4 separate regions of the Homo sapiens genome follow, and all the other regions are linked to region 1. Evidence: fine-mapped expression QTL. A gene starts in region 1. Each other region holds a variant in brackets. All regions are shown on one strand. Distances are from middle to middle. Region 1 holds the start of SAMD4A (sterile alpha motif domain containing 4A). Region 2 overlaps SAMD4A (sterile alpha motif domain containing 4A). Region 3 overlaps SAMD4A (sterile alpha motif domain containing 4A). Region 4 overlaps SAMD4A (sterile alpha motif domain containing 4A).

What was found.
Region 2: its variant is fine-mapped to the expression of SAMD4A in monocytes after triphosphate RNA (Kim-Hellmuth 2017, PIP 0.95).
Region 3: its variant is fine-mapped to the expression of SAMD4A in whole blood (TOPMed, PIP 0.99).
Region 4: its variant is fine-mapped to the expression of SAMD4A in cerebellum (GTEx, PIP 0.96).

The regions. Positions count from the first base shown.
Region 1 is chr14:54,563,914-54,572,018 of GRCh38, reverse strand. It overlaps SAMD4A (sterile alpha motif domain containing 4A), which reads right to left and starts at 4,891. Exons shown (of 13, transcript NM_015589.6): 1 at 4,681-4,891; 2 at 3,907-4,523. The coding sequence starts at 4,102. RefSeq lists silencers at 3,860-3,919, 4,160-4,219, 5,060-5,249, 5,370-5,419, 5,980-6,109 and 2 more.
Region 2 is chr14:54,779,750-54,787,854 of GRCh38, reverse strand. SAMD4A (sterile alpha motif domain containing 4A) reads right to left here. Exons shown (of 13, transcript NM_015589.6): 12 at 3,235-3,318. Among named protein-coding and RNA genes, the nearest start is that of MIR4308, 94 kb to the left of the region's middle. The variant T/G (reference allele first, on the strand shown) is at 4,686.
Region 3 is chr14:54,719,336-54,727,440 of GRCh38, reverse strand. All of the region lies in intron 3 of SAMD4A (sterile alpha motif domain containing 4A), which reads right to left. Among named protein-coding and RNA genes, the nearest start is that of SAMD4A-AS1, 35 kb to the right of the region's middle. The variant T/C (reference allele first, on the strand shown) is at 4,445.
Region 4 is chr14:54,695,863-54,703,967 of GRCh38, reverse strand. It overlaps SAMD4A (sterile alpha motif domain containing 4A), which reads right to left. Exons shown (of 13, transcript NM_015589.6): 3 at 1,388-1,906. Among named protein-coding and RNA genes, the nearest start is that of SAMD4A-AS1, 12 kb to the right of the region's middle. The variant T/C (reference allele first, on the strand shown) is at 4,571.

The DNA.
Region 1 (8,105 bases):
TCCATATCATCAGGAAAACCTCTTCTGCTGCTTTCTTTTTATGCCATTTGTAACCTTAAAAAGTAACGCAGGGTGGAGGATGGCATACTTGTACTACAGAAACCAAAACCATAAAAATCATGGAACCAACATACCCACCCTCTAATGACAGCAAGTTTACACAAATATGGGGTGAGGGTGACAGCCCCTCATCCCATTCTAAATATGTTACCTCCAATACACTATGGATTATCAATTTTTTTAAAAAAGTTAGAATTGTGTCTAGAATAAGAGTAATTACATTCTGAGAGAGAGTCTTCAAGCTCCACAATTATTTTTTTGTCTCAAACATCACCATTTTGGATACCCTTTTCTCTTGTATTTAACTATAAGTATAGGAATTTATTGTCATTTACTTACCACAAACATACACAAATAGTGTATATTTTGTGGGTTACGTTTTTGTGGATTAACTTATAAATCTCTATGAAAAATATATTTCAAGTCCAAGTGACAAAAGCCATAAATAAACAATGCCACAAAGTCTATTTTTCTTTTGGAAACTTCAGGTAAAGTCAGTGGGTTGCATTTTTGCTACTTGTAGGTATCAAATGACCTGCTAGTCCTGGAACTGAGACTGGCCAGAAGTCTCAATGTTCAACTGGAGCAGTAGCTGAAGAGACTTATCTAAGGTTATAAGGATCCTGGGAACAAGACTGTACTAGAGAACTGATCATGACCATATCTGTTAAAAGAAAAACACATACAAATAAATCCATAGGGACTGATTCAATCATTTCTTGGAATCTCCAATGACCATGAGCCTGAGGCAAAGGATGAACCAGTGAATCACTAGATTCTCAATAAATTTAAGAGAATGAAAGCACCAAATTACATCCCACAAATCTCAAATAAATCATGTTTAATGCGCAGGATATCTCACTATTTAAAATCAGTCCTGCATAAAACGAGAGATATATTCATACTATTACTAGTAATTTTTTTTTATTATACTGAGATCGAGTCCCATATATGAATTTGGTTCCCATTTACCAAGTTTTAAAATCTCTAAACACTAGACAAAATGTGAGGGTTTTTTAAATTGATGATTACAAAATAAAGTGATACAAGATGACTTCGGTACAGGAAATCTCAGCAATCCAATGAATGAGTCATTCTGCACAGCCTAGTTTTCTGAATTGGTAAGAGCCTTACACATCAAAACAGCTCAGAGGTTAATTATTCTGGGTGTAAACATTTCCAAAGTATATTGAACATTTCCTTCTCTTCTTAAAGAGTGTATCTAAAAATGTATTATTTCCATAGTTCACCGTTAACAACAGTAAATAGCAATTATTTGTTTATGTTATTATAGAGTGGTGCCTACAAGGTCAATTGAGGGTTCCCACCCTAATATTCCCAAGCCTTCAAAGTTTCTGCCCCAATTCTTGTCTAAAGTTACAGTTTTTCTGTCTCTTTCCAAGTTGTCAGGCTGTCAGGGGTCACTTTTTACTACTGATTACAGCAGTCCCTCACCCCATTCTAAATGTGTTACCCCCAATACACTACGGATTATTTGTCAAATTTTTTAAATGTTAGGATTGTGTCTAGAATAAGAGCAAGTACATTCTGAGAGAGGGCCTGAAATATTCTCTTGGACTTTCATGCTATCTACTCTGGTTGCGAAGTGGACTTTTTGCCCCCTTCCTGGTTCTTGGCTAGTTTCCGGATATGCAGAGAGCCACACTACAGACTCAGGTATGCTATGACAACTCCTGATGCTCTTTATGATCCCCACACTCCGAAAGTAAACCAAATCATCACATGACCTCCTAAGAAATTTCTGTCCTGGCCACACAACAAAACAACTGCAAAGATTTCCATGCAGGCAAAACGTCTAGGCGAAGGATTAATCCAGAAACTGGAGACCAGTTCCTATCTTACACAATGGTTCTATATTTTGTATATCTACATCATTTAGCAGCATGAACAGGTGGGTATCTTATACAAATAAGTATGGCCAAACATGTCTTAAGGGAAAAAAAATGCCAAGTGACTTCAAAAAATTCACAGTTCAATTTTTTAAATTATGAGATTTTTAAAATTAGGCCACCTTATTTTAACATTTAACTGTTTTACTTACTAACCTGGTGGCTGCTCTATTGGGAAAAGTCATCTCCATTACTCAAAGGGAAAAAGTGCTGCTCCAACATTTGAATAACCTAAAGATGAGTTTGAACAGTCCCTACCAGCACTGAAATCAAGCATTCAACCTAAATGACTCTGCGTAAATCCTCTGCAATCTATAAAATGCAAAAGTTTATATAACCTTGTTTGTCAAACCTGAGAAAGTAAAACCGAGCAGGTAAACCAGGCTTCCCGCTGAAATTAAGGAAGGAAGCAAAGAGGGTGGATCATCAGTTACCCAATTATGCTTCCACACCCCAGTGAAGGAGGCTGGCCCTCCAGCTATTTATAAACGTGGAGCTCAACCAAAGGGGGCCCTGTCATCGCCACCCCAGTGAGTCCTGGTGTGAGCTGGGAGGCTCGGGCTCAATGGAATCTCCCTCAATGTGGCCCTCCATACTTGGCCATGCAGGATCTTTCGGGTGCAGTCCTGTCTGGTCAGGAAAAGAACTGTGAAGATTTCCAGCGGTCACTTCCACCCTATGATTCTATATATGGAAGCATCCCATTCTAGTGTTTTCACCATCGTGCACACCATACTAGGGAGGAGGAATGAGTAGGCCGGCTCGCTTCTTGCTGCTCTGAAGGCACACTCACTTTAGTGTCTCCCAGGCCCCACTGCCCTGGACTGGACCTTGTCATCAAATGGCAGCCCAGACCTCTGCTGAGCTTTGCAGGCTCGCAGCTCCAACATGGAACAGCTGGAAGAGGACCCTGCATTCTTTTCTCTGCATAAACACTGGGGACTCTGTTCACCCTCCTGCAGCAGCATGAACTAAAGAATTTCCCCCTATCCAAAATCACAACCATCAGACTTTCCCCCCATCCCCCAGCCTCCTCCTACCCTCCAGGATATAATTTCAGTCTGTCACCACCCACGCTAGCAAATAGGAAACTGCTGGACCTTTCGACTATATTCACTTTCCATACTAGTTGAGGTGTCTGTAAATACTAGCAGGGTAATATGAAACGATTCTGTTCTATTCAGTAAAGTTTCCTAACGAAAAGCATTAAGTAACCCACTTCATGCCTGTCCTTTCTCCAAGACCCTTTTTTTCTACAAGATCCGTATCAATATGGATAATGTCACGAGCAGTAAGCTTAACCGCATTATATATATATATATATATATATATATATATATATATATATATATATATATGCTGCAAATGTCATTTTACTAGTCTCTAGCGTCACCTGCATATTATTCTGAAGACGAAGCTCTAAAACCAGAATATCTGTGGGGAAAAATGAATAATAAAATTGGATTTTCATGTACTCCTCACACAGCCTTATCCAAGCTTGGCTTCTGAAGGGCAGTCCCGGGCATCTATCATGTGTTGCTGAAATCCAGCGAGCCACGTTGCCCAAAAGAAGGAGGAGGAAGGAAAAAACACACACACCCAGAAAATCCAGACTCTACGTGACCTGACTTACTTATTTCCCAGGAAACTGCATGAGAGAAAAATCAATCATTCATGCTACCGTAGCTACCACACGGAAAGGGCTGACGGAGTTCACAGTGGGCAAAATCCCAAAGCGGCCGGCGGAGGTAAGTAGGTGGGGGGCGGTAGTGGGGGGACACCCGGAGGGGGTGGATTCCGAGGGCCTCGGGGCCACGCCGTCCAGGTCCCGGCGCGGCTGGCAGGGACTGGCCTCGGCCTGGCCCGAGGCAGAGAAGCGGAGGGAGGAGCGGGGGTTGGGCAGGCGGGACGGCGGCGGCGGCCGCCGCACACTTACCGGGGCTGTTGGCCTCGCGTTCGAGGACGTGCAGCTCGGCGCAGTCGGCCAGCGAGTGCTCCAGGCAGAGCTGGAGGAAGCGGGCCTGGGTCTGGCTCACGCGCTTGAGCAGCGACAGCAGCGCAACAGTCTGCTCGCACTCGTTCCAGCCCTTAAACCAGCCCGCCAGCACCCCGACCTGGTCGCGAAACATCATGGTTAGGGGGCCGCCCTCGGTCTACAGAGCCCCCTGGGCGCCCCAGCCCGCCCCGCCCGCCCCAAAGTTTGGCGGAGCCGCAGCCCCGCGGCCGGAGACGCGTTCCTGTTCCAAGGTGGCTCTGGTGCCCGGACGCTGCAGGTACTGCCTGGGCTCCTGCCTCTCTTGTCTGGTTTCAGTTACGTTCCGGTGGTTCTGGCTGATTTCCCCAGAGACGATGACAGACAGTAGCACGGAAATGTTTCTTTAAAAAAAAAAACGACTTTTTAAAAATCCCCCACAAGGCACACAACTGAATGAAGAATGCTTTCTCCCCCCTTCTTGCAGCTTTGGGATGGTGATTTCCGGCGTCCTGGGGTCTCCTCCCCGCTGGGCGGCAACTCGGACCCTTCACGCCCGCATTCCCGAGCGGCGATCACCACTGGAAGGAGAGAAAGAGCTGCAGTGAGACCTCGGCTAGCGGAGGAGCGCGCCCTGGGGGGACGAGGGCATCAGAGGGTGCTGGGGCCAGGGGAGGGGGCGTCCCGCGGAAGGTTGGGTTCGCCGAAATCCAGCCGCCCCCTCCGCCCCCTCCGCACCCGATGTGGGAGATGGGCTATTCCCCACCGGGTAACAGCGAGAAGCCTGCTTCCCAGGTGCGGGAGGAGACCCCGCGGCTTCCTGTTGCTGCCGCTGCCAACGGCTGGTGCTCCCCTCACGGCCCGCCTGGGGTGGCCTCGGGCGCCGTGCTTAAGAACGCCAGCACCAGCAACAGATCTTCCCCGCGCAGAAAACTTGCAATGCGGCTGCGAAGGGGCGCGGGGGTGGGGGTGGGAGCTAATGCAAAGCAGAGGCGGAGGCAGCGGCAGCCCGAGTTCCTTCCTCCTCCTCTTACTCCTCCTCCTCCTCCCAGAGAAGCAGCCGAGCGGCTGCAGCTCCATCTACAGCAACAGCCAGCATCTCCACCGCCAGGCGCCCCTCTGGATTTAGGCCGTGAGCAGCCGCGGCAGCAGCTCGAGACAAAAATAAACTCTCTCCACCCAAAGCTCCGCGCCCAGCGGGCGGCGGCGCAACCCAGAGCCCCGGCTCCCCCGCGCCGCGCCGCACCAGCCCACCCGGGAGGTCTCCCTGGGCCTGCTCCGGCCGGAGCGGTCACTGTGCGCGCGCGTGTGCGTGTGTGTGTGCGCGCGTGTGTGGCAGGCATCCTGCCGCCGCCGCCTACGGGCTGGTCTGTCCGGCCCGGAGCCTCGCCCGCGCGTCGCAGGCCGAGGGCGGCACAGCGCTGGGCACACGCCCCGCGAGGGGACGGCCGGGGTCCGCAGCGCTGCTCCCTTCGGCCAGCGGGGCGGCCCCGCGGGGAATGCGGATCGGCGCCGCAGGCACACGCCCCCCAACGACAGCAAAGAAAGTTCGGCTGCGGGGGTTCCCCCAGTCCCATCCCGGTTCTCGTGGCCGCCGCCGGCGGGGAGGAGAACCCAGCGACTCAGCCTTCAAGGAGCCGCTAGCTTCCAACAACACGCTGCTTCCGGCTCCCAGAACTTCTCGGGCGGAGGGGGAAGCCCCCGGGGAGGGGACCCCCAGTGACCCGCGGGTCCCCCGCCGAGGGCCGTAGGGAGGGAGCGCTCACCTCGGCGCGGCTCATCCCGGCGGCTCGGGGGCCCTTGCGCGGGTCCGGGGCCGCGGCGGCTCTCAGCGGGGTTGGGGGCGCCCGGAGCGCCGGCCGCGGGCCATGCCGTCGGGGCGGGCGGCGCGGGGAGAGTGCGGTGCTTCGAGTCGGGGCCGCTGCAGCCGCCGCTGCTGCTGCCTCCAGTGTCGGCTCGCGGAGGACTGAGCCGCCCGAGCCGGAGCTCCCCACATGCTACTGATTAACATACACCATTACATCATGGGCTTGGCAGGGAGCGCCCGAGCGGGGGGAGAGGAACCCGGGCGGCGGCGACGGCACGCGGGGGGAGCCGGGGGGAGGAACCCCGGACCCGGCGCAGGGCGGGGGGACGGATTCCTAAGTGGGGACCAGAAAAAGGGGAGGGGAGCGGAGTGGGAGGAGCTGGTGGCGCAGAGGGGTCGGGTAGAAGGAACCTCCGAGAGGAACGAAGAAGTTCGGGGAAGAGGACGGGTCCGGGTGAATTTCTTCCTGCGGCCGCCTGCGTGTTCTGGAGGGGTCGGGACACTCAAGCCACTGGAGCCCCGGCAGAAAGGGACCCGAGGGCGCTCGGGCGGGGGCGGTGCTGCCACCCGCTGCTTGTCCTTGGGAATGTGGTTCGTCCGCTCGGCTGACCCTCGGCCCTTCTGGGGCCCCGGGGTGGCCGAGGTGTTTGGCCCCCGGGCGGTGAGACCCGAGGTCACTGCCGCACTTGCTGGGATGGGTTCCGGGGGTCGTGGAGGCGAAGGGTTCACGAGGCTGAGGGGCAGTGCGCAGGGTTGGACCTGCCCAGGCGCTAGGTTCCGTGCCGCCCTAGTCCAAGGGCCTGGCCCGGGTCGGGTGCCGGATGCCCTTTGCTCTGGCGCAGGCTCCTAGAGGCCGGCCCGGCGCCTGGCTGAGTCCCACTCTTCCCCGGGGAGGTGGCCGAACTCCTGAGACCGGTCGGGGGAGCTGTGCCTGGCGCGCGGGCTGCGGCTTCTGGCCTGGAGCGGAGGCGAGCGCCGCCCTGGGCGACAAAGAGGCGGGGCGAGGCCACCTGTCAGCGCTTAGGCGTCGCCAGGCCTCGCAACCTTCACCTGGATCTGGAGAGTGCGCAGGGCCGCGGCCACACCGGGGCTTCAGGTCCTTGCCGCGCGAGAGGCGAGGAGGGCGCAGCGCAGAGGCTGAGTGGCGCAGGGTGGGCTGCGAAAGTGCCTCTGCTAGTCTTGAAAGTAAAGGTTTGGTTAAAAATACCCTAAACCCTAAAAACCTCTGTACCTCCTGATATGGGTTGAATATTCGCAAGAAGGACTGGATGACTAAATCTGGGCTATCTCCGTGATTTCAGAGGAAACACTGCTCCCTCCAGCAACTTGAGGCTTTGTTTATACGGGAGTAATTCTGAGAAGGCAGTGAAACGCGTGTTTCAGACCCAGCCTTTCCTACTCCTGCTAATCCACTGTTTTGAAGAGAAAGTATCTGAGATATTATTCCACTAATTAACACTTTTGTTTTCCAACTCCGGCATATGTCCCTGGAATTTAAATGCTTTCTTCCCTTCCTCCTCAAATTTAGTTTCTGCAGCGTATAGTTCGTTTCAGACACGTGATAGCACCTAACCATCTGTTAGGGTTTTTGAAAGGTCTTGTCGAGGTCGAGCTGCAAAAATGTGGATTTTTTAAAAGTTAATTATTAACCAGACAGGTGAGGTATCCGCTTAATTTAATGAATATTTTGCCCTATTTAGAAAACAGGAAACCTGAAGTCAGTGTTTTATTTTTGTTTTGTTTTGTTACTGTAGAGGCAGAAAGGCTTGATAGATTTTCTCCAAGAGATTACTATGAATTAGCTAATTCTTAGTAATAACTTATATCAGGAAATAGGGAGGATTAGAGAGTATGGTCTACTTCGGTATATACCTTGCTATAAATTGTAGGCAAAGCAGATGTCGTTCTAGGGCTTTTGGAAGCTCCCAAGAGTGAATTTTTTTTAAAAGAAAGTGAAAAAACCAGAAATTTCATTAACATGTATTTTCACCTGCAGCTTACTAAAGGTATAGTAAAACTAAAAACAAAACAACAAAAAAAAAAAACAAAACTTAAGCTGGTGAATGAAAATACTGCCATCTACTGGAAAAGTGTAGTTCTTACACCAGCCTTTGACCTAGGAAAAGACATTGATTTATCTCATTTTTGAATTCTTACTGTTCAGGACACTCTAAGACATATAAAGTTGAGCATGACATGAGCTGTCAGTACTCTTGTATTTGTGTGTTAACAATTCCTTTCCTCTGGGCAAAGGAAAGGGAGTATAAATAAAACCCAGGGATGTGGCCTCACTCTTCCCCAGAGTGAAGTCATCACTCTAAAGGAAAAAAAAAATACATTCATTAAATATAAGGTA
Region 2 (8,105 bases), 220 kb before region 1:
GTAATGAGATTTAATTTTAGAATGGTTTCTCTGGCAGCTGCATCAGATAACCTGAGGAAGGATAAGGCTGGTGGCAGGTGGACCAGTTAAGAGGCCCCTATAACAGTCTGTGCCAGAACTGACAAGGATTTTTTCCAGTGAGCAGAGAGAGGCATGGATTAGCCATCACAGGCGGTAGGAATAACTGCGTTCAGTGACCACTAAATGTGGGTGAGACAGGGCTGTGGGGTGCCTCCCTGGCTTTGCTGATGTCCCAGTCCAAGCCCCAATATTACAGAACTGGTCCACCAGATGCAGCATCTCTATTTGCTTGGCAGAACTTGGGTGTGAGAAGGGAGTGGCAGTGTGTTCCAGGGAAAGCTGGAGGACCCAAGTGACAGGCGTGCTGAGGCCACCACAGGGGGTTGGTTCCTGGCTTCCTTGTGGGTGGAGCCAGGCTGGCAACTCTTGCCAGTGGGGCCTTGGAGGAGAAGCACTTCCTCAGTTGAAACTTTTGAGATAACTGTAGGTTCACATGCTGTTGTAAGTAATAGTCCAAACAGACCCAGTGCACTTGTATATAAGTTCTGTATGATTTTAGGGGAGATTTTAAAGAAAGGAAGCAATGGTCCCTGAGTGTGTCAGTGGTGTCAGATCACCAATCCTAGAGGCCAACAGATGTGAGCCTCTCTTTCTCCATTCCTGAGTTGCAAGCATTGGAACCTCTTTCACTGTGCTTTCCTCTCCCTGCCCGTTCCTCTTCCCATAAAAGGACTTGACTCATTAGCATACTGTCTCCAGCAAGGCCATCTTTCCTGGCACCTGGAAGGGGTTGGCCAGCAGAGAAGCTCTGTCATATTGGGAGGGCACACTGCCACTGTGCCCAACTAGGCCACCCTGAACTTAATTTGCATTCTCTGCTCAGGAAACTGCTTACGAGGCTTCCCACCAGAGGAGATCATTGGGAAAAAACACAGCACTAAAAAAGCTTAGGAGATTAACAAGATGAAAACATTAGCAAAAAACCCATCGGTTCAGAGAGGTTTTCTGTAAAAACAGAACAGACTGAAAAAAACGAAGTCTTTTCAATGAAAACCTTCCTTTAATAAAGAGCATTTGGTATTCTTGCTGCTAATGATGATAATGTTGGTACTTAGCAGTTTGATATGAGCCTCCAAAATGCCAATTGTCTGAGATGTATCAAGCCCTGGGGGAAAAGGTCAGTTCTCCTTTTTCTTTGGTCAAAAGCAGTGAAAGACTGAGTCAGTCCCCCACCCAGCTGGCCACTGTCGAGCAGGGGAGCACAGGGGCTTCCCTCCCCATGTCAGAGCTCTGGCAGGTGCCAGCTCAGGGGACTCACTCACCAGCTGCTATCCTAACTCTGGCCCCAGGGAGACTGTCATTACTACTTTTAATTGAAATATTTGCATATCATAAATTGCACCCTTTGAAAGTATACAATTCAGTGGTTTTTAGTATATTTGCAAAGCTGTGCAACCCTCACCACTATCTAATTCCAGAATATTTGCATCCTCCTCCCTTCAGCCACTGGCAACCACTCATCTACTTTCTGTCCCAGTAGATTAGTCTATCCTGGACATTTCACATAAATGGAATCATACGCTCTGTGGTCCTTTATGCCTGGCTTGTTTCACTCAGCATAATGTTAAGATTCATCCACTGCATCGCATAGGTTGGTACTTCTTTGCTTTTTAAAGGCTGAATGCTCTTTCACTGTTTGGATACACCACATTTTTTTGAGCCATGTTCATCCTTTGGTGGACATTTGAGTTGTCTCCCATTTCTCATTAGGGGGCTGCTGACCCAGTCTCCTCTATGAGGTAAAGATGAGCTGGCAGCACCTCCTGCCAGAGGTACCAGGGATGGCCCAGTGATGTTCCTGAGATCTGAATGGCCAAGGCAGAGAGCAGTGGCTCGCAAATGAGGCTCTTTATAGAGCTCTGGGGGAAGTCACAGAAGGGGCTGTGTCTTCCCACCATCTGTTTGGTGAAGCTCTGTGATGCCCTTGGAAGGCTTTCAGCTCCCCCTGATGCTAAGGTCAGGTGGGTGTGGTCCCGGGCCCACCACTCTGCTCCATGCAGAGCACTGATCTATTTCATATTTGGTTTCAGGATAAGATTGTGTTTGCAGAGACTAAAAATCTAACAACCTTAGGTCTGGAGGACAAGGCTCTCTGAAGCAGCAGAGGATGGCAGTCTTTTCCCCACCACTGCCAGGTGGCGCACGTCTTGGCTCTAGGTGTGCAGACAGCCCTTCTCTGGGTGGGTAAGTGTGTCTAGACTGGATAGGGCTATCGCTTCTCGGCCTTTTGGCTAAGAGCAAGTGTAGACTGGATAGGGCTATTGGAAAGGCTCACAGGAGGCCTCTCTGTGTCTCTGTGGCACAGAGCCTCCCAGGAAGCTGGCAGGAAATGGCAGACATCTCTTCTCTCCTCTGCCTGCCAAGCATCATAAATATCCAGGCCCAGAGAAAGGTGCCCGCTTAGTACCAGGAGGGAGCTGAAGGCCTCCCAGGGCTGCTGTGACCAAGCATGGCTTCCAGCCAAACACACGGGGGAGCACAGATGCTTCTGTGAGCTGCTTGTGGGGCCACAGCCCTGCACAGCACAGCCCCCATTCTGGGCTTGGGCAGTGGACGTGCAGGCGCCTCTAACTCAACCTGTCCCTGTCACACAGGAAAGGACACCTCAGCCTGCTTTGGGCTCCAGGTGTCAAGAAAGTTGTTTGCAACTGGGAGATACACAAACAAGCTGGGTTTTCTGTTTTTCAAAAATTATATTTCTAAGGCAAGCTGGGCTATGCTTGGACCAGGCTGGGGGATCTAGTGCAGAGAAGGGAAGCATCCAGTGTTGTGCGGGATATTCCTACTAAAAGCCATGTCTCATGTCCCTGACTCCTCCAGGCCTGGCACTTGGCTGGGACAACTGCTGTGGTGTGATTCCCATGTGCACTGGGAGGTGGAGCTTCTGGGGACAGAGGGACAGCTTTGATTGCCAGGTCCCTGACTCACCTCCCAGAAAAGGAGGAGAAACAGGGCACTGGCCACTTGGCATGGTGCCGCTGGAAAATGGTCCAACAGTACCCTAAGGCCACTCTTTCTCCCTGTCCCCTGCCTACCCCTCCTTGTCCTCCCCCAATTCTCCTGAGCTCCTGCCACGGTATAGACAGCAGATGGCCAGTTCTCCCAGGCACACGGTAACAGGGACATGGGGACATGCAGGAAGAACACACTCACCTCCCAGGGCGTGTTCGGTCATACTGAGGCACAACGACTCCAGCCTGTTGTTGATGTCAGGTTCGGTCACGGGAAGCTGGAATTCTGCAGGCGATAAAGGGTTATGTTGGTGACAAGGAGGAGATAAGCAGGGTGCCACCTGGTTCCACCTTCAGGAGAAAGGTCTGGTGTACCTCCCTGGGAGGACTTGGGGACTGTCAGCGCTGGCATGGAAGGGGCTCCACTCAGGCTCAACCAACCTCTAAGGTCTGTTAAACACAGTCCACTGTGAACTTGGGAACCTGGAACAAAACGGAGACTAAAAATAGCTGGTCATGTCACAGTCTGTGCCTCCTCTGCTCAGAACCCTCCAGCGGCCTCCCATCAAAGTAACAGCCAACCTCCTGCCCTGGCCCATAAGGCCCCGCATGATCCAGGCCCTTGTTATCTCTGTACCCTCATACAGCTCTCTCCTTCCTCTGCTCTGCCCCAGGCCCCCTCCTACCTCACGGCCTTTGCACCGCTGTTCCCTGGGGTGGTTTCCATGGCTCTCCCTGCCTTCACATTTCTGGCTCTATCATCTCCTTGGAAAGGACTTTGTTCCTTGTATGAGCCATGCCCCCACACTATCCCTTTCCCCTGCTTTATTTTTCTTCATAGCCTTCGCCCACAGCTGTCATATTTGATATTTGTATTCACTTTCTACTGTCCCCCTCCCCTGACCCCGCTGAGTGCTCACCTCATTGGAGCAGAACATGGCTCTGCCCCCTGTGCCTAGAGCAGGGCCTGGCATGCATCTAGAGTGGGAGAGGAAAGCCAGGGCCCAGCACGCACCTCTTAGTGTGAGACCACGTGGGGGGCTTTAGGTGTGCGGGCTCCTTAATCTGCCCAACAAGCCCAAGTGGGGTTCAGAGAGGTGAAGTCACTCATCAAAGTTAGCCAACTAACACAAAGCTGGGACAAGACCCTCTCTGACTCCAGAGCCGGGGCTCAGCCACCTGCCACAGCAACTGCAGGTAACTGTCAACACACTCAGCCTCGAGGGCCTCTAGAATCAAGGGCTGAGACACCCACTCTGCAGGCAGTAGGGGCTCGGCTCCCACTGACCGACAGTGCTGTGCACATTCTCACCACAATCTCCCCTCTACCACCTGGAACCCCTCTATCTCCCCAGGTTCCAATGTCGCCTCTTGTGAGCAGGAGGCAGTGTCTGGGAGCCACCTCCTCTCACCTGCTGGAGCCCTCACTGTCAGCACCTCCGCAGGCCTCATCCAGTGGCGACTTTAAATGTCCTCAACTACCTGGAAGTGCCTTGTAGACAGTGATGATGCTTCCCTATCTCTCTGAATCTCCCACAGCGCCCAGCCCTGGCCTTCTGCCTCATACATGTCTACTGAGCGAAGAAAAAGAGAAAGTAGAAGAAGTAGAAGGAAACTCTGACAGCTAAGAGTTGTGAAATCCTTTTTGTTTTT[T/G]TTTTTTTTTTTAAAGTTTTGTGACACTGGTTTGAAAAGAATTGCAAAATCCTAAGGGGAGAGGCAGAAAAAAAGTCCCAGAGGGGGTGTCCACAGCGGGGTGTGTTCCAGGTGACCGAGAAGTCTCCGTGTTGCCACCACCTTCCTCTGTGAGCCTGGGAACCTGTTCCATGCTGAGGGCCTTAGCTCCTCTACCTGTCAAGTGGGCAAAGCATCCCGGGGTCCCCCTGCAGGCCACTTGCCTGCTCCTTCATGTCTCCACCAAGGGAGCACATGGGGCCAGAGAGAGAAGAAAGAGAAGTGAAACGAAGTTGGTGGCTTGGTGGGATAGGAAGCTGAAACCAATGGTTAAGTCAAAGTTTTGTTTTCCTTGATTTGCTATACATTAAGATAATCTCTGCAATGTGTGTTTCCCATTGTCAGCTAATTCAGAGGCAGATGTTGCTTCCGTTATTTAAAAATCTCAGAAGCCTGGCAAAAAGGAACGCTATGGAAAGCACCAGAGAGCTGACTGTGTTCTTCCTGACCCATGTTCCGGCATCGATGGGTTTGGAAGACAACCGTGCCAATACGTGAGCAGACGGAGGCCGACTGAGCTTCCAGGGAAGTGGGGTGCCACAGAGAATGGCAGGAGTCTCCACCGCCCCCACCCACTAGTTGCTGTTAGAGTAGGGTCGGGGCAATTAGACAATTCCAGGGGGAAGAGATTTTAGTATTTTCATCCATTCATGTGAAAATCATATGCATGCAAAAATTAGCAGTCTTCAGGGTGTGAAATCTATAAAATAGAAACACAATTTTATATATAGCGAGTTAGCAAATATGAAAAAAAAAAACAAACCTCAGCAATTATAGCCATCCATATGCTCATTGTAAGATTTAGTTTACTCTCCAGCGCTCCCCTTTAAACAAACACTGTGGAGAGATTTGGATAAATAAAGATGCTCGACATTTGGAGAGAAGTGTTTCAGCTGCAGGATTTCTTGCCAACACGCAGCAAAATGCCATTTTCCAAGCCTGGGATTGCGTGTTCCAAAAAGGGGGCTGAGAAACGCAGGGCTCTCCGCTCCAGAATCCCCAAACCTTCGTGGCTGCTCTTTTAGGTGGGAAGTGGGGGTGTTCGCTTCTTCTCCCCAGCTCTTTGCTTCCATGCACTGGGGAGCCGTGACCCCCAACACTCCGAGTGGCTCTGAAAAATTCTAAGTCTTGGGAGAAGCCCATATGTTCACACTGCAGAGTTTCCTAATAGTGTGACTTTTTAATTGTGTATTTGATAAAAACAGATCCATGCCATCTCGCCGCACGTATAAGACAGAAAGACCAGTTGGGTGGAAAACAGCTTCCATCTCAGGCTAGGAACCCTCAGCTGTATGGGGCTAGGTGCCCCAGAGGGGCATTCGGGCAGCTCTTGCCCCACAGACCAACATAAACCACCAGGCCAACCCTTGCTGTGGCTCCTGTTAACCCTGAGGGCCCATCTCATTTATCCCAGGCCCCTGCCCCTCGTGGCCACAGACCAGGCAGATGGAGATGTGAGTCTTCAGGAAGGCAAAAGGAAAGACCCCTCTTTAACTGAGCCTCCTCTGCTCTTTCCCAAAGGAGGCATGTTTCTTCAGCTCAGATGGCATCTCTGAGGACCAGTATTCCAGTATTCAGTAAGGATCGCTAGTTTTGGAATCCCCAAGGTCTAGGCTGACTTGAGACATTAATTGTATCTTTTCAGAAGTCCCACACGTATGGAGTAGTCCTGTGCTCAGGCCCAGGGTCAAGAAGATTCCGGAAGAGAATGCTACCCATCCCTAATGAGGTGCTGCTGCAGCATCCACCTGAGGAGCCCAAAGGGCTTGTCCTTGGCAGTAACCGTCCATCCCTGCTGGGTCTCACATGTGTGGCACCCACGGTGCAATTCTGCAGTGCTTTTTCTCCAAGGCACTGAGGGTAAGGAGCCAATTTCTTTAGGACTTTAGAATAAGAAACAGGCTGGGGCATTCCAGGAAAAATCTATAGAATCCCGTTTTGCCAATGACAGCGGAGGCAACTCTGTTGGATAACTAGAAAGGTGTGGAGTCTGGTTCACTGAGCAGCAGGGTTGCTAGGAGGAGAGAAAGCAGGGAAGACAAAAAGGGACAGAGCAGTGGGACCTGGTCTGCTGTGATGAGATGAGTAAAGAAGAAAGGAAGACAAGAGAACTAAGAAGAAAGGGGGAGGATGGTAACAAAAGGGAAAGAAACGGCACAGGCAGGGAAACAGAGGGGTGGGGCAGCAGGCAAGCTGAGGATGGCAGAGATGGCCATGGAGGGTGGCAGGAGTAATGAATAGCATCCCTGAGTTGACCATGGGAACGCACCTTTTCTCTGGTGGCCTCCTAACATTCCTAAGCCTGCAGAAGGTCAGTGCCTGTGGAGGTCCTCTGGGACCAACGCTTTCACAAAAAGTGATGGGTACAACATGGTATAAGATGATATTGTACCATCTTGCCCCAAGTTGATGCTCAGAGGCAGGAGGCTGTGGGCCCAGCTGGGTTCTTGGCTATGACAGAATTGATTTATTTATCAATCTCCCTACCCATTGTCTGCCAGTCCTGAACAGGGATGTCTGCCTTGATTTATTAGAAGACATGGAGGAAATATTTATCCAGTACTGTACTTGGGTCCCTGTTCTGGTTTCTGCCTCTGCATGGCAGCCCCTTCCACACCCCACTGGACCCAGTGCACCAATAACTCTCTATTCTTTCTAAAGGCAGTTCTCCGGAAGGAAATGAAAAATAACAGCCTGGAGCCCTGTGCTCCCAGATATATGCAGCGTGCTTATGGCAGAAGAATCCCAATTGTGAGCTGGTACTTAGAGGAGGTTTGCTGTGGTGATCAGGTAAGTCACACCATGAAATGCTGCCATGTGAGGTGCCACTGGACCCAGCTCACATCCAGCTGGTTCACAACCAAGGGTAGTTTGCATGTGGCTTTGGGCAAGGGAAGAATGAGATTTTCAGAAGGCTGTGCAGCCTACCCTTCTGAAGGTTTTCCTTTGAAGCCTGCTATGGGGTTCCCTGCCCTTTTCTGTTAGGCCCTCCAGGGGGTAAAGAACCTCCATGATCTCCTACTGTTGAGCCAGGGCCACTCCAAGATCCTCTCTGACTGGATCCCAAGGACAACTAAGCCTGGGTCAGTAGAAATTAGTTGCTTCCAAAATAAAGGATCCCTCTCCAAGCAATTTCCAAACCAGTTATCTAGTTGAGAAAACGCCCTGCCTCCATGAGGAACGTGACCATTCGCACAGGCGCCACACTTGTTTTCTGGTGAGCGTATTACACCTCGTAGTGTTTCTTACTCATCACTGGCAATAGCCACCTGAAGGGTCTCCTGGCTGGTCCCAGGAAACAGCTAAAACTTGTCCATGTGAAGGTGGAGGTTGCAGTGAGCT
Region 3 (8,105 bases), 160 kb before region 1:
GAGGCGGGTGGATCACCTGAGGTCAGGAGTTGGACACAGACTGGCTAACATGGTGAAACCCTGTCTCTACTAAAAATACAAAAATTAGCCAGGCATGGTGTTGCATGCCTGTAATCCTAGCTACTCGGGGGGCTGAGGCAGGAGAATTGCTTGAGCCCAGGAGACAGAGGTTGCAGTAAGCCGAGATCGTGCCACTGCACTCCAGGCTGTGCAACAGAGTGAGACTCCACCTCAAAAAAAAAAAAAAAAAAAAAAAAAAAAAAAAAAAAAAAAAGGAAAAAAAGAAGGCTGTTGTGATAAGCTTCATTCAGGTATGAATTACAGTGTTCTTTGTTGTGAGTTCAACATTAATTAATCAATAATATACATTAAATAAACTATCTTTAAACAGAAACACACATAAAACAACATTATGTATTGATAAGTTGACAAAAATGTGACCGAACCTAGCCCTGTATTTTCTCTAGAAGCAATCATTCAATATTCAATAATTCAGTGTTCACAACAACTTTATAGAATGCAGTTACCCTGAATGAGTAATAGACTATCTGTACACGTAAATACAAACTCTTCACTCCACCTTCCATCTTGTGACCTACCACAGTTTTCTCCTAGACCGGTGGTTCTCAACCTTGGCTGTACACTTAACTTCCTTTGAGCCTTTTAAAAAAAAAACCCCGATGCCCAGGTCCCATTCCAGAATAAGTCACTGAGAATCCCTGCAGCAGGGTCAGAGCATTTGTACTTTTAGATGCACCTTGGTGGCTTTAATCGATAGCCAGGGTCAAGAACCACTGCACTGGGCTGCCTTCCTGCCTCAGTACTTTCCCCCAAACTTTGTCCCACATCTTGGACAGTCCAAACCTCCCTAGATTGGCTGTTGCTTCTGCTGGTCTTAATAAGATGCCTCAAAAGAATGAGCATCTTGTTTTGTTTTCATGGGGCTTTTAAAAGACAAAATTCATACCCTCACTTTTCCCATCAATGATTATCTTATTTGCTTTGGATTCCCATGCAAAATTCTGTTCAGGTTCTTTAGCTCAGGGTTGATCACTCTTGCACTGCTCTCTAGATAAAGTAAATGATATTTTGAACCAGGGTTCCAATCCAAATGATACCTGGGCAGGAATTCCTAAAGACTCCCCAGAAAAATATTTTGACTCCTGGGCAATAGTGCTTGCCTCTTGTTGTGGTCATTTTCACCCTTGTAAGTAGGAAAGAGAGGGTCAGGGGTCAGCCTCAGGCCCCATTTGAATGTGAATCAGCTGCAGAAAGCTCCAGGCACATTTTCTTTTAGTCTGGAAATTCAGCTGGTGAGAGCATAACCAACTCACAAATGGTAAAAAATTGCATTCTAGATCCATGGACAGGTAGCATTGGCATCAACTGGGATCTTGTTAGAAGGGTTGACTCTTGGGCTTCACCCCAGACCTCCTGAACCAGGAACTGCATTTTAACAAGACCCTAGGAGATTTGTATGTACATTCAAGGTTAAGATGCTCTAACTACATACGCAGCTCTTGCTGGCTGATACTTGTTCTGTTGACGTTGGGGTAGGCATCAACCAAAACAAAAACGGACTGCTGAAGGGAGAAGAATTTGGGATTTGAGTTGGAAGTCATGTGGCCCTTCTGTACTTCCGTACCTAAAGTTTTCCCCATTAGTAGATAACAAAGGCTACGTTATGTGATTATTGGAAAAAATCTAATCATTTAATGCACATTAAAATGTTTTGCATATTGTAAAGTGCTCTAGAAATATTAGTTGTTAGCTGTTAGAGTAAGAATAACTTGGTATAAACCAACACTGCTAATGGAAAAATCATCTCAAAAGTACTAGCTAATCTAATGACATTCATGCAGCATTTTCAGCCTATTACATGTGGCATGAAAAATATATCTTGATTACTTGATAGTGTTTCACAGATTTACAAGAGGTAAATTTTCCATCATGGTCTGTCATACTGAAGAGAAACTTCACCTTGCTCTTTCAAAATCTTCACCTATACTGACAAACTTCTGCTTTTCCTGGTAAGAATCTTTTTTCTTTGATTCAGATTCAACTTGGTTTTTCCTTTCCTCTCACACATTTTAAGTGTCCACATTTCATGTGTATTTTATGGAGGGTCAGGAGATGTGAATCACCTCCTTTTCCACTAAATTTCAGTGCCCAGAACTCTTCATGAGAGCTTGTCTTTGTCCTGACATTTGTAAGCAATACAGATTGACTGAAATCCTTATTAAAGATTCTAAGTACCTCCATTATTTTAAGAAATTCAGGCTGAGAACCTATTACGTGTCTGGGTAACATTGGGTTCCTCATATGCAAAGCAAGAGGTTGGAGCAGATGAATTCATTCATTCATCGGATATTTGTGGAGTGCCCACCATGTGACATGCCCTAAAAGCTTGAGGTCACAATGTTGAAAAAGACATTACAGCCCAGTGGATGGTCTCTCAGCCCCTCCTAGAGCCAATTGCCTGTGATGCTGTTAGCCTATTTATGCAGTGCGGTTCTCTCTCACACCCCAGCTCATTTGGATGAGATATTATTGTCCCCACGTTATTTCTCCATATTTTAAAGTCTGCCTTATGATACCAGTAGAACAGCCAGTTAGGGTGTCAGGGTAAAGAAGCCAGCTGTTCACAAGGGCTGGATTCTGGAGAAAGGAATGCACCAAATTATACCGTTCTTCCCTGTTCCCAGGTCTCCTAATGTCTGGTTTTTCCTGCATATTTAGGATCTCATGGAAGGGTAACTGAATGAATGAACTCTGTTTTTGCTGTTTCCTCCTTACCTGCCCTGAGCTGGGGATATTGTACTGCTGTTTTCCCAAATGCAACCCAAAGACCCACCTGTGAGGCCCACTGTTCCCAGTCCTTTGGCCTCCAAAGAGGCCGCAGGAGAGTGCACACAATATCATCAGCTACCATTTGACAGTGCCGACTATGTGTCGGCTTCTTGGCTAAATGTGTAAACATGTTGTTCCATTTAATCCTCATTTAATGCTCTCTGAAGCAGATTCTACCATTACCCTCTTCCCACCCCCATTTCACAGATAGCAAGCTGAGGTGCAGAGGATAGCTGACTTGTCAAAGCTCAGACAGCTGAGCAGTGGAAAGAGCCAGAGTTCAAAATCCAAGGTTCTCTCACTTGCAAGCCTGTGTTCTTAGCCTGACACCGTGTTGCTTCTCATGGCAGAAAGAACTCTGGGCTTAGCTACTGACCCTGACTCTGAACAATCGATATTCAAAATCCTGAACAAGTCCACTAGCTTTTCAGGGCCTCAGTATGCTCATCTGGAAAATAGTTACAATAATGGTAATACCTTATTCCACCTACCTACCGGGGTTGCTGTGGGGGTCCTATGAATAGATGCGTCCTGCATTATTCCTTCCTTCCTTCCTTCCTTCCTTCCTTCCTTCCTTCCTTCCATCCATCCATCCATCCAATATTTGCTGAGCATCTGCCTGGTGTTGGGCATATGCTAAGCACTAGGAAGGATGACAATGAAGGCCAACTAAAATGATGTATGGGAAGATGCTTTATGAAATGAAAAAATGCTAATTGTTAACTTCCCAGAGAGTTAAGCTAACCTCATTTATTCACTCATGTAATGAACAGTGAGCATCTCTCTGCATAGGTACTGTATTAGTCGCTAGGGATACTGATGCCAAAAAGAGCATTCATAAAAAACAAGGCTGCACAGATGCAAACAGTATTTTCTATCATTTATTAAGCCATCACCTTCTATCATTCAGAAACACGCAGAAGCTAGAAGCCGCAAGGCAGTGTTAATATTCTAAGTAACACTTTCCATGAAGGTGAAGAATTGCTGAAGGATGTAAAAATTTTAGGTCATTTCAATTTCAATTAATTTGCCACAGTATTTCTAGGACTAATGAAAGTTTTTGAGGAGGTGGTAATGCACCAGGACCAAGATGCCTCTCTGAATCCTCCATTTTAGAGGGACAGTATCAGGGGATCTATATGAAAGTCAAAAAAACTATTCTTGCTTCTGTGGTAAACATATTGTTTCCCTGTCTGCAAGTTGGCTATTCCATGCAATCATTTACAATTCATGGCTCTGAGTAGCATAAAGATTCCCTATAACTAAATTAGAAATCACCTGCCCAACCACATGGAAAGCATCTCTTTTTCATTTGGGCTTTCCCCAAATGGTGCACAAAGCTTACGGTTCTGCTGTTCTGTGGGTGTTCTGAGGGCAGGGTAGGCAAGCATCTACACAAAAAATCAAACCAGAATCTTTCAAATTCAAATTAAATGCTGGAGGAGCAGCAGACCTAAGAGAAACACCTAGATGGGTTTTTTTTTTTTCTATTTAAAAATATAAGATAACCATAATGTCTCTCTGAACGAAAAGCTGTGCTTCAAGAATGGTTCTCCCAGAAATGAACACTGACTCACAAGGTACCAGATGGGGT[T/C]GGTATAGAGCTTTTCATTCTTGAGTCAGGCTGTCAAGGTAATTGGCAGAGAGCAATGCCGACATTTTATTGAAAGTAGAAGTTGTTGCTATTGTTTATGTGTCCAATAGAGTTCGTCCTGAGGGAATTTAAATGATGGTGCTACATTTCTTGATCTCTTCCTCCAAGAACATTACTTTCAGAAGACTGGAAGGTATAGGTAACACTGCAATTTGTCTCCCTCATGTATTTACCCCCGAGTTAACTCAAAATCCCAGAACTTTAAAACAGGAAGAAACATTAAATACATGATTAGATGAATATCATCTAATCCACTCCCCTTGCTATTTTATCAGTTAAGGAATCAAAGACCTAGAGAGATCTGGCAATTGCCCAAGGTCACTTAACAAAGTTGATGTTGACGCTAAGACTTAGAACCCTAATGTTTTTGGTCTTCATCCGTCACAGCATATCAATGGTCATTAGTTTTCGTATCAGTATCTTTTTGACAAAGAAGGGTAAAAAAATAAAGTCTGTGATCTAAAGTAGATAATTCCTCATTTAACACCAGAGCTATGCATTGCAGGACCCAAATGTTGAGGCCTATAGATTTGTACAACAGCTTGAACAGCATAAACACAGCAGGAAGTAGGACATCAAATAAACAACTGTATGCCAGTGGGGTTGTTCCAGAACCAAAGCTGTCACATCTTCACTCTGGGCTGGGATTTTCCAGGTCTGGGCACTCTGAATACCTATCCTTCTCATATTAGCTGTCCACCACCTGAGACATATTATGGGACCTTCTCATTTTTGCCTAACTGGTCAGAGGGACTGCCACCATTGATGTGAAGTATTGTTTATGGACTGGAAAAAGCAACATCTTCTTCAGCCAAAGCTGAAGTCGCCATGAAAGACTTATTTCACCATTAATACTTAATCTTTTTAATCAGTTTAGGTTGTATTTATTTCTGTGATTTTTATTATGAAAATATATTTATGCAGAGGTTTACAAATGGGATATTTATATGTAGACTGCTAGAAGCCATCATTTATCTACAAAATGCTATAATACAGTGTCCAATTTGTCATTTAAAAAGACTGGGCATTTTCACAAGGATGTCACTATTTCTAAGACCTAGGCCCTAGAGATAGTTATTTATTATTTGCTGGCACTTTAGAACTAAGCAGAACAGCAGAATCTCTTATTTTAGAGCCTCAAAAAAACTTCAGGGATCATTTAATTAATCTTTCCATTCTCTCCAGCCTAGTTTCTGGATAAGACAATGGAAACCGAGAGAAGGAAAGTGACAGGCTAAAGGTACCATTGCCAATGAGAAGAACTGAGCTCTAGTTCTAGTCTTCTTCCATGTGGCAACGTGATCTTCAGGCAGCCCCTTACCTTCCAAATGCAGCCCTCATTTTAACTATTAGAAATAGGCAACATCCTATTGATAATGAGAGTTATGGTGGGAAGATTACTATCAAGAAAAGTAAGAGCTTGAAGAGGAAGCTCTTGAGAGGTAAAAGCATTTCAGACACTCCCCATTAAAGATTTCTATTTAAGAGAGACAGATTTATCCCCACTTAAAATCAATGGCTCTAAGTAGCATAAAGTTTGGTTTCATTATCTAACCCTCAAAATTGAAATAATTGTGGATAAGATAGTTACTATTTATTGGGGCGTAGGGACTACACAAAGAGATCTAAATACATGCCATTCATTGATGTGCACATTCACTCATTTATTCATTCAACAAGCATTTATTGAACATCTACAATATGCCAGCCAGAGTTTTAGACAATGGAATGCTATGGTGAACAAGACCAGGTTCCTGACCTCTTAGAATTTATATTCTAGTGGGGGAGATAGATAATAAACAAGTAGACAATTAAAATAGACTGCCAATTTATGCGAATGTTATCTCTGTTCCTTCTGAAAACTCACAAAAATGACAGCAAAGGCACAAACTCACGAGGACAAAGAATGCAGGAGAGAAGATGACAGGAAATGAAAAGGTTATCAGCAGACCACTTGAAGTCAACAAACTGTTGTAAGCTGGAAGACAGAAGGACATGAGGGAACTGGCTCAGAAGACCTGAGAAAGGTGGTGTGTGTGCCCATAGCAAGGGAAAACATGGCAATTTATGTGGTAGAACTTCCATGAAGCTCAGGACTTGGAGAGCAGGTACCTCTGAAGGCAGGGGTGCAGGGAGGGGCTGGAAATTGGTGGTTTGGGGAACCTGGTGCTAAGCCATTCATAGACAACCTGTTTTTGCATTGGGTTTCACGTGCAGAAAAAAAAATAGGTTTGTTAGAATTTATGTTTAAGGTACAGAGAGATCCTCAGATTCTCCCTTCTACCCTGCTCAGCAAGGCAACTGTCATCTTAGCACCTTACTCCTAACAGGCCCTAGGACCCTCGCAGTAAGGCTTATATCCCTCAGGAGGAGGCTGGTAATGGGTTTCTTTAATGGTAATGGGCTAGTCCATGAGAAAAGAATTGCAGATGGTGATATATGTGAGTCCCACAAAAACAGCCAGGTTAGGTTCCTATCTGATCTCTCTGTGGTGAAATCTACACACATAAGGTTCTAGGTCCCTTCCTCTTAAATAAAAGGAAAGTAAGAATCAACAGATAACTGAGGAATGCTTCTTATTTGAGACAGAGTCCAACACAAACAGAAGAGAAAAAACTCCAAGAAACACAGGCAATATTGGGAGCAGAAGAGAACTCCAAAAATCAAATGTGATATCTTCAGAGACATTAGAAAAGATTTGGCAGCTATGAAACAAGAACAGAATGCAATACAAAAAGGAACCTTAAAAAGACAAAAAAGAACTCTCGGAATTTGAAAATATGATAGCAGAGATCTAAAATTACATAGTATGTTTGAAAGATCAAGTTATATGAATCACCTGGTGAGTAGAACAGAAAGATTAAAAGTAAAACAAAATAGGAGAAGAAACATTAAGGAGATTAGAAGATCAATAGAGAGGAGCTATTATCTAATCTGAAATTCTTTAAAGAGCGAGGAAGAAAATTAATGAGAGGAAATTATTTTGAAAATTCAAGAAAATTTTCTAGAGCTGCAGAAGCAAATATTTTAGACTAGGAAAGCTAGACTGAGGGTAACTAACACAGATGGGAGTAGGAGAATAGAAGGATGTCTTCAAGAAAAAGACTGTATGTAAACCCAGAGAGGACTTTCACAACCGCTTATGGGTGGCACTTAGTACTCCTTTTTAAGTTGATGAAATCAAGGCCAAGAGAGGTTAAGCTATTTCTCCAAGGTCACACAGGTAGTAATCAGTGGAACTGGGACTCAAACCCAGGTCAGTCTCACGCCACCATGTGTGCTCTGAACCACAGCTTGATATTGCCCAAGACCGTTCTGGACTTTGATTCTGCCATTCAGTATACTAGCAACCCTGCCAGATCTGTGCCATGAACACATGTTCTGGAATGAAACAGTGTGTCACAAAGAAGGGAATGTTGAGAAATAAGGGGTCATTTGTCCTAATTCTCCCTTCAATCCTAGAAACCAGGCCGCCTCCATTGCTAGATTTGGGAGTTGTGGATCAGAGCTGGAACAATTTGGGAAAGTCAGACTCAACTTTGAATGATAGGACTTGAAGAAAAGCAAACTTCTCCAGCACCAAAGGAAGCCTTCAAGTCTA
Region 4 (8,105 bases), 130 kb before region 1:
TATTTGAGAAAGCCATTTAAAGAGTCCTGGTAACCAAAGATCCAAGTAGGAACAGATGCCAAGAAGGCATCACTGCCAATTCTTTTTCTTTTTTTTTTCTCTTCTGAGACTCATGCTATTGCCCAGGCTGAAGTGCAATGGCACAATCTCATCTCACTGCAACCTCTGCCTCTTGGGTTCAAGTGATTCCTTAACCTCAGCCTCCCGAGTAGCTGGGATTACAGGCATACACCACCATGTCCGGCTAATTTTTGTATTTTTTGGTAGAGATAGAGTTTCACCATGTTGGCCAGGCTGGTCTTGAATTCCTGACCTCAAGTGATCTGCCCGCCTAGGCCTCCCAAAGTGGTGGGATCACAGGCCTGAGTCTCTGTGCCGGCACCCCAATTATTAATCCTCTCATATCTTTTAACTGGGGGTTCCTGCATGAAGACAGGCACACGAGGTCTAATTGCAAAAGCATTCCTTCAAGAAAGTTATCTTGGCACTGCCACTGCATTCATGGACAGGTGCAAACTAGCATTAAGGAACGCTGTTTGAAGACAGGGTGCACTTCCACACCGCTACTTTATACAGACACCAATGGTGTGTTTGTCACTTTGCTCAGCCTCAGTGGGGAGACACAGAGAGGACTCCCAGCCCCAGTGCCCAGCTGAGGGTGCAATACTTTGCTTTAGTGGTCAAAAGAGCAGAGGGCTGTCCTCCGCTCTCCCCACGCACAAAGCAGTTCCTGACCCACCTCTCCTAAGGTGTTGGACTGAGCGAGAGAAGTCCATGGCATTCTCACCAGGCCACAGCACACAGCAGCATTCTCAGTTAGCAAACCTGCTCCCACTGGTCAGGAAAAAAGTGCCCCAACAATTGGGGATTAAAACCAGAAAATGCAAAGGGAGGAAACATTCCAGGGTGAAATTTAAGAAAAAATAAATAAATAAAGAGAAAGAAAGAGGAAAAAAAAAATAAAGAGAAAGCACAAAGCCCATGAGGCTGCCTGGTTAACCATGGGTTAGAATTAGGTTTAGAGAATCACACAGTAACTCAGTGTCTCAGCAAATCCAAAACCCCAGGGTGAAAGACATGGGTGAAATGCATTTCTGATTGTGGAAACGGCAAGTTTCCTTCTTTCATTTATTGTCTATTTATTTTTGGTCTGTTTATAACCCAAATTTGGACCATCAGTCACTTTTACCTTCCCAAGTATTTTCATCTTTGCAGAGTCAAAGAGCAACAAATATGGGGTCCAAAGGACCTTTCCCACAGCCAATTCCAATCAGTCCTTCTCTCCCAGGGTCACAGGGTGCATGGAGCAGACACTGTCAGCAGGACATGCCACATACACAGCAAATCGCCAAACCAGACTACGTTAAAGGGATTCCGGGGAACTTACTTGTACTTGTGCTGGTTCCAATCGTATTGATTGTGGTGGGGACAGATGAGGAGGAGTAGAGGGGCACATGGCCATTCTCACACCCCATGCTTTTGTCCTGCCAGTTGGAGGCATTGATGCAAATCCCAGAATCCCGAGAGTTCTGCCACCCATTGAGCTTGTCATCAGAGTTCTGTCTTTGGTGATAGTAGTGTGTCTGTCCATAATCCACAGAGTCTGAGCGGCCTCGGTTCTGGCCACCAAAGCTGGTCGACGTGCGGTCCTCCAAGTGATTCAGCCACATGGCTAAAGCACTACGGTCTTCTAACGAAGTGGCTGGATGTATCAAAGCATAGGACAGCAGCTGCCTGCTCTCCTCAATGTGCTGGTTGTGTTCAATAGAGTGAGCCAGGATTTTGGGCAGCAGTTTCATATATTCTACTTTCGCGTCGAGGTTTCCTGGCTTCAGCAAAGGCAGATGAGTTAACAGGAGGGAAATCACTTTATCCTTGGATTCCTGTTGCCATTGGTTAATGATTCCTGAAAAGGGAAATATACACGGCAAATAAGCAAATACACCCACAGTGACTCTAAACAGATACTCTAAAGAGAATTTTTATGGATTAGGGTCCCAATCTACATAGTCTGGCTATATTTTCTCAAAAGAGCCTGTGAATCAGATTGGTTAACTGACCCCAGGTTTTCAAGGGCCAGAGGCTCCAATGAAACACAGATCAAACATTCTTAGATATTGAGTACTCAATCAAATTCTCATTCGTGTTTCCAAAAAAGCTACAACTACTTTGGTACAATCAAATACAATGTGCAGCTCTGTTTTCTTTCTGAGAAAGGTCTAGCCTACCCCCTGATAGACAGGGGGCTAAGACTAAGAAGCTCTCCATAGAAAAGTGAGTATGAACAAAGGTCCCATTCCAGAGTCCTGGGGGTGAGGCTGCTTCACCTCCCCCAGACATCTGTTGAAAGTGATTTAAATCCTGGTAAAGGCATTTGTGTGAAATTGGAAAAACTTCCTAGATGGAGAAATTTGTCAGGGAAAAAAAGAGCTCCCCTCATCTCTGTGCAGTAAGACTGCACCTTTCTCATGAGAAGCTAACTCAGAGTGACTATGGGCTCAAAGCTAGAATATGCAATGGACCGAAGACTTGGCTCCTGAGACACCTCTAATTGCTGTTTTGCTTTATGTAGAGATCAGCTTGTTTTTATTGTGGTAAAATACACATAACATTGATCATTTTAATCATATTTAAGTGGATGTTCAGTGGCATTAGGAACATTCACAGGCTGGGGGTGGTGGCTTATGCCTATAATCCCAGCACTTTGGGAGGCTGAGCCAGGAGGATGGCTTGAGCCCAGGAGTTAGAGACCAACTTAGGCAACATAATGAGACCTCATCTCTACAGATAATTAAAAAAGAAATAGCCATGTGTGATGGTATATGCCTGTAGATCCAGCTACTCCAGACGCTGAGGTGGGAGGATTGCTTGAGCTTCAGAGGTCGAGGCTGCAGTGAGCTGTGATTGCACCACTGTACCCTGGGGCTTGGGTGACAGAGGAGACCTGGTCTCAAAAAAAAAAAAAAAAAAAAAATTCACCGTTTCACAGTGGTGTGCAACTATCACTACCATCCATCTCTAGAACCCTTTCATCTTCTCAAACTGAAACTCTAACTACTCTAGGTACCACAGAGAAGTAGAATCATACAGTGTTTGTCCTTTTGTGACTGCCTTACTTCACTGAGCATAATGTCCTCAAGTTTCAAGCTCTGGGAAGATCTGTTTTTAACACACTCAGAAGGATCCTTTCCATCCCCTCTCACTGATTAGCCTTTGAGAAATAGCCTGTCTTGGGATTGACAGTTATTCACAGGCTCTGGGCCAGAGGAAAGAAAGCTCATTTTCAGGGAAGTCATTCCTGACACCTGGAGATCTCAACACTGGCCCACTGATGACCCTACAAGGGCTAGGGCTGGACAGTCCTGCTGGTTTTTATGCCATATCTAGAAGGTTGGAAGGGGTTTCTGGAATTTAGCAGAAGGGCTTAGCAATTCCAGCTAGGTGCAAACATAACAAAACAAGCCCAGTTATCACTGTTGACCATAAGCTACAAATGCATCAGCCTGTGCTGCAATGCTTCTCAAGACTATGGGAAAGAATATTTCAAGAAAAATACCAGCAAAAAAAGAGGCATGGTATATAATGAAAGAGCATGAGCTTTGGAGTCAGGCAAAGCTGGACACAAATCCCAGACATGCCATTTAATTTGTGGTAGAACCTTGGTAAGTTACTTAACTTCTCTGAGCCCCAAATACCTTCTCTGAGCCCCAAATAGCATCTGCCCCTCCATGTGCTGTGGGATTAAATAACGTAAAGTAGCAAAAGGGCTGGTCAAGTACTTGATGATGGAGGTAATTCCTTCAGCTTGTCTCTGCATAGCTGGAATCATGTTAGAGCAATGTGGGTGGTTTGGGATGCCAAGTTTTAAAAAACAAAATATAGAGAAACCAGAGATGACCCAAGAGAAGTCACTAAAAATGATCAAGGAGGTAGAAAGTCAAAAGGTGAAAAGAAAATGGGTTTACTGTGCTTACAACAATATGAAGAGATGCTTGACTCACTTCAAGTGGGATTTCATAAGGAGATGCCAAAGAGTCAACTACTTGTAGAAGTCTCCAAACCGAAGCAGGAGAGATTAAGATAGGACGTGGAGAAGAACAGAATTGCCAGAATAATGAAAGACTCAGAATCACCAAGGAAGGCTTTAGAATCTCTGCCCTGGGGTCTGAATGTTATTCAGTAACAGAGTGAGACGATCTTGAGGAGCACTGTCCAACAGTAATAAAATATAAGCCATATATGGTATTCTAAACTTTCTAGTAGCCATATTAAAGAAGAGACAGAATAAACAGGTAATGTACATTTTAATGATATATTTTATTTAAATAATCAAATTATCACTTCATTATCCATTATCATTAATGAGCCATTTTTCCTTTTTTTGAATTAAGTCTTAAAAATCTTTTAAAAGTCTTAAAATGCCAATGTATTTTTTATCATGGACAGTACATCTCAACTTGGATCAGCCACAGCTGAAGAGCTTAGAAGCCTTATGTGGCTGGTGACTACTGAGCTGCTGAGCACAGGGCTGGAGACATTCAGATGGGGAAGGCTGGCAGGAGGGCACAGA[T/C]GACCTCAGCAAGTCCCTCCCAGCTCCCTGACTCTATATTTAGCTAATTGCCACCTGACACAAGACAACTCTCACACATTCCACTAGGTATAGCCTCCCTTTTAAAGTAGCGCTGAGAGGCAAAGAAAATTCCAATTCTAACTTTCTCCTCAATTCATCTTCAGCAAATACCAGGCATGTTTTAAATGATGAATGTGCTTAGCATGAAGATAAAATCTATTCATTAAGCCCAAGAGGCACTGAAAAGAAGCAAAAGGGGCCAAGAAGCAAAAGGGGTTATGCTGTAAGCCTACTGTAATCAGAGGTGGCTAGTGTACATCCTTGAAAATGTACATTTAAAGATAAAAATTAGGAATGACTTCTAATAAAAAATTCATGAGGCTGAGGAACTCCCTAGCTTTCTGCTAGGTCATTTCCCTGATTGGACATTCTACCCTTCCACAAAAGGTCAACCTAAAAAAAAAAAAAATCAGCAACAAAAACAAAACATAAATAGGAGTCATAGTACAAACGAAACATGTTATCTCCATGTAACCGCTCTCTGCTGTGGATTAACCTGGGATTCAGAGGAGGAACAAGCATAGCAAAGAGGAAGGAAAACGAGAGGCCGCTGGCCCCGGTCCCTTTATCCTCAGGACAGGGCTTGGATGGTGGGACCAGGAAGACAAGTATTGCTTTTGTTTACTACCACTGGGAACACAGAAATCAGATTGCTCTCTGAGGGCTAACTACACCTACTGGATCAAACTATTTCTGCTACTACTCCAGCTGCCACTGCTGAGAGCCAACAGTATTGAATGTTTTCGAAGTGCCAGGCACTCTTCTAAGCCCTGTGCATTTAATTACTCACTTAATCCTCCCAAGAAGCTTATGAGGTAGGTCCTATTACTAGCCTTCTTTTACAGATGAAGGCACAGGGGCACAAATGGGCCAAGTTACTTGCCCCCAGCCCCCTGCTAGTGAAGTGGCAGAATGGAGGTAGGCAAATTTGATATTAGATACATAATGGCTGTCCTGCTACAACAGCGTGGCCATAAGCCAAATATATTGATATTTATAACATAATTAGATGTTCTATAGTTATATGATACAGAATTACATATAAATGCATACAAATATGTAATAGTTATAAACATTATATAAATGTATTAATAGAGTACATGGATAATCACAGTTGGTGAGCAACAGAAGTATAATAAAAAGGAGTTACAGAGACAATGTAAGTTATACCTATTGTGGTTTAAAATATGTTAACTATTTATTTGACACACCTCTTTGAAAGGTGGAGCCTAATTCCCTTCCTTCTGAGTGCAGGTTGGATTCAGTGAGTCACTTTCAGTAAATAGAATGTAGGGGAAATGGCGGTATGTGACTTTATGGATTAGGTTATAAAAGGCATTATGGCCTCCCCTTGCTGTCTCCGAGTACTCACTCTGGGGAAAGCCAGCTGCCATGTTGTGACATCATGCAAGCAACCCAATGGGGAGGTCCTTGTAGTGAGGAACCGAGGCCTCGTGCCAATACCTAGCACCAAGTTGCCAGCCATATGAGGGAACCATCTTGGAAGCAGATCTCCTAGCCCAGATAAGCCTTTGGACAACTGCAGCCCACATACCATTTTGAGGAATCCTAAGCCAGAATCTCTCATATTTCTGACCCACAGAAACTGTGTAACATGTTTATTGTTTTAAGCTGCTAAGTTAATTAATACACTATCCAACTGTCCCTCTAGGTAAAAGGAAGTTTTAGCCACTTGGTTTTGAATACATCAGTCTTTCTGGCAAAGCCATTCCCATTCTGGCATGGACCCATGAAGTTCCCGTTGCCACTAAACATTTCCCTTCCTCAGCGCCCCCGTCCTGATTATCCACTCACAAAACAACCTTTGGACCATGATTTAGCTCCCCAGCTACCCTCAAGGAGAGAATGAACTGATCATAGAGACTTGAGGTATTTCCAAAATCTGTGATAATGATTTGTCAGGGCAACTTAATACATAATTTCTGATTATGATTTGGCTTCCTGTGGAGGCCTGCCGACAAGGACAATGTGTGCTGATTATATGGACTTGGAGTACGTCTGGTCTCTCTGATGATGGCTCCTCGTGGCAAATTAACCAGCCAGCATTGCAGTGTCTACCTCCCTGCTTTCTAGTTAGCATGAGTCAGTCTTTCAGGAGAGTATCCCCAGGGTGCTGACAAGCGTGAACATCTCTACCTTCAAACGGAAGCCAGACCCTACATGCAGGGACTTGGTCACACTGGCTAGGTCCTGTCCAACTGCCCACTGGCCTCTGTGGCATCCACACTATCTTCCAGAGAGCAAAGAATCTTTGCTGAGATTTGCATTTGACAAATTCTCCTCCCTGGGGAAGATGCAGGAATCCTCAGAATTTTCAATTAATTGATCACTTCTGAGATCCAGTCTCTACCATTACTCACCCCAATATCACCTGATTCAGGACACAGTGGAAAACTTAAGTGCAAGAACTTCAAGGTTTGATGATGTCAGCTCACCTCTACTATGTTTTCTGAATATTTTCTTTGTTATTTCTCTGTATAAGGAGCAGAGATGTAACAGTTCTATTACATGGATGTTTAATGTGGATAAAAGTTAATGATTTATAATTTGTAAACCAGTGACATAGGAGTAGTAAAAAAAATTAGAAGAGCTATAATTAAAGACCATGAGGATTAGGAAACTGTCCCAATGATTTTTGGAGTGACAAAGAGTGTGTTTAAATACCAAGTCTGGTATTATTGCTACACAATGGTATGTCAATGCTTAAGGGCTCTAGTTGTTAGTAAATTACTCTTAAATTGCTATTTTATTATACCCTTGTTTTCAGTTTAATAACGTTTGCCATAAAAGGGTTTCTCACAAGCGCATTTAGGCAATTTGCTCATGCAAGAAATGGCTAGGAATTAAATGCACACACAGAAGAAGTACTGGTGAAATAAATGTGCTAAAAGGCAGGAATATTGGTGGGTTTTACATGGTCAAAGACTCCTTGGAAGAATGTTACAAAGTCAATCCTAGACACATCATGTACTAAAAGCTTCTAAATATAGTGCAACTCTGCACAACTCAAAAGTGGATAACCACACACACCATGTATTTATTTGTAGAGATATTTTTCAGCCCAGGGCACCTGAAAAATCAGGGCAAAAATACCAACATGGCAAATGGTGGGATTCTTGTGTTGGCACCTGCACTTGAGTTTGTCTCCCAAGGTACCCTCTTGAGCTAGAGGTGACCAGAGAAGAATCCCCATAATTTGGTGGGAGCCCTGCTAGTGGTATGGATTAGACCAGTTGTGATGGGGAACCCAGTCTGGAGTTATGAGCCCTTACAGCTGCAAGTAGTGTTTTGAAAAGGTACAAAGGATTGAAAAGATATAAACCCTCCCCCTATTTTCTTTTTCTTTTTTTTTTTTTTTTTTTTCTGAGATGGAGTCTCACTCCGTCACCAGGCTGGAGCACAGTGGCATGGTCTTGGCTCACTGTAACCTCCGCCTCCTGGGTTCAAGCGATTC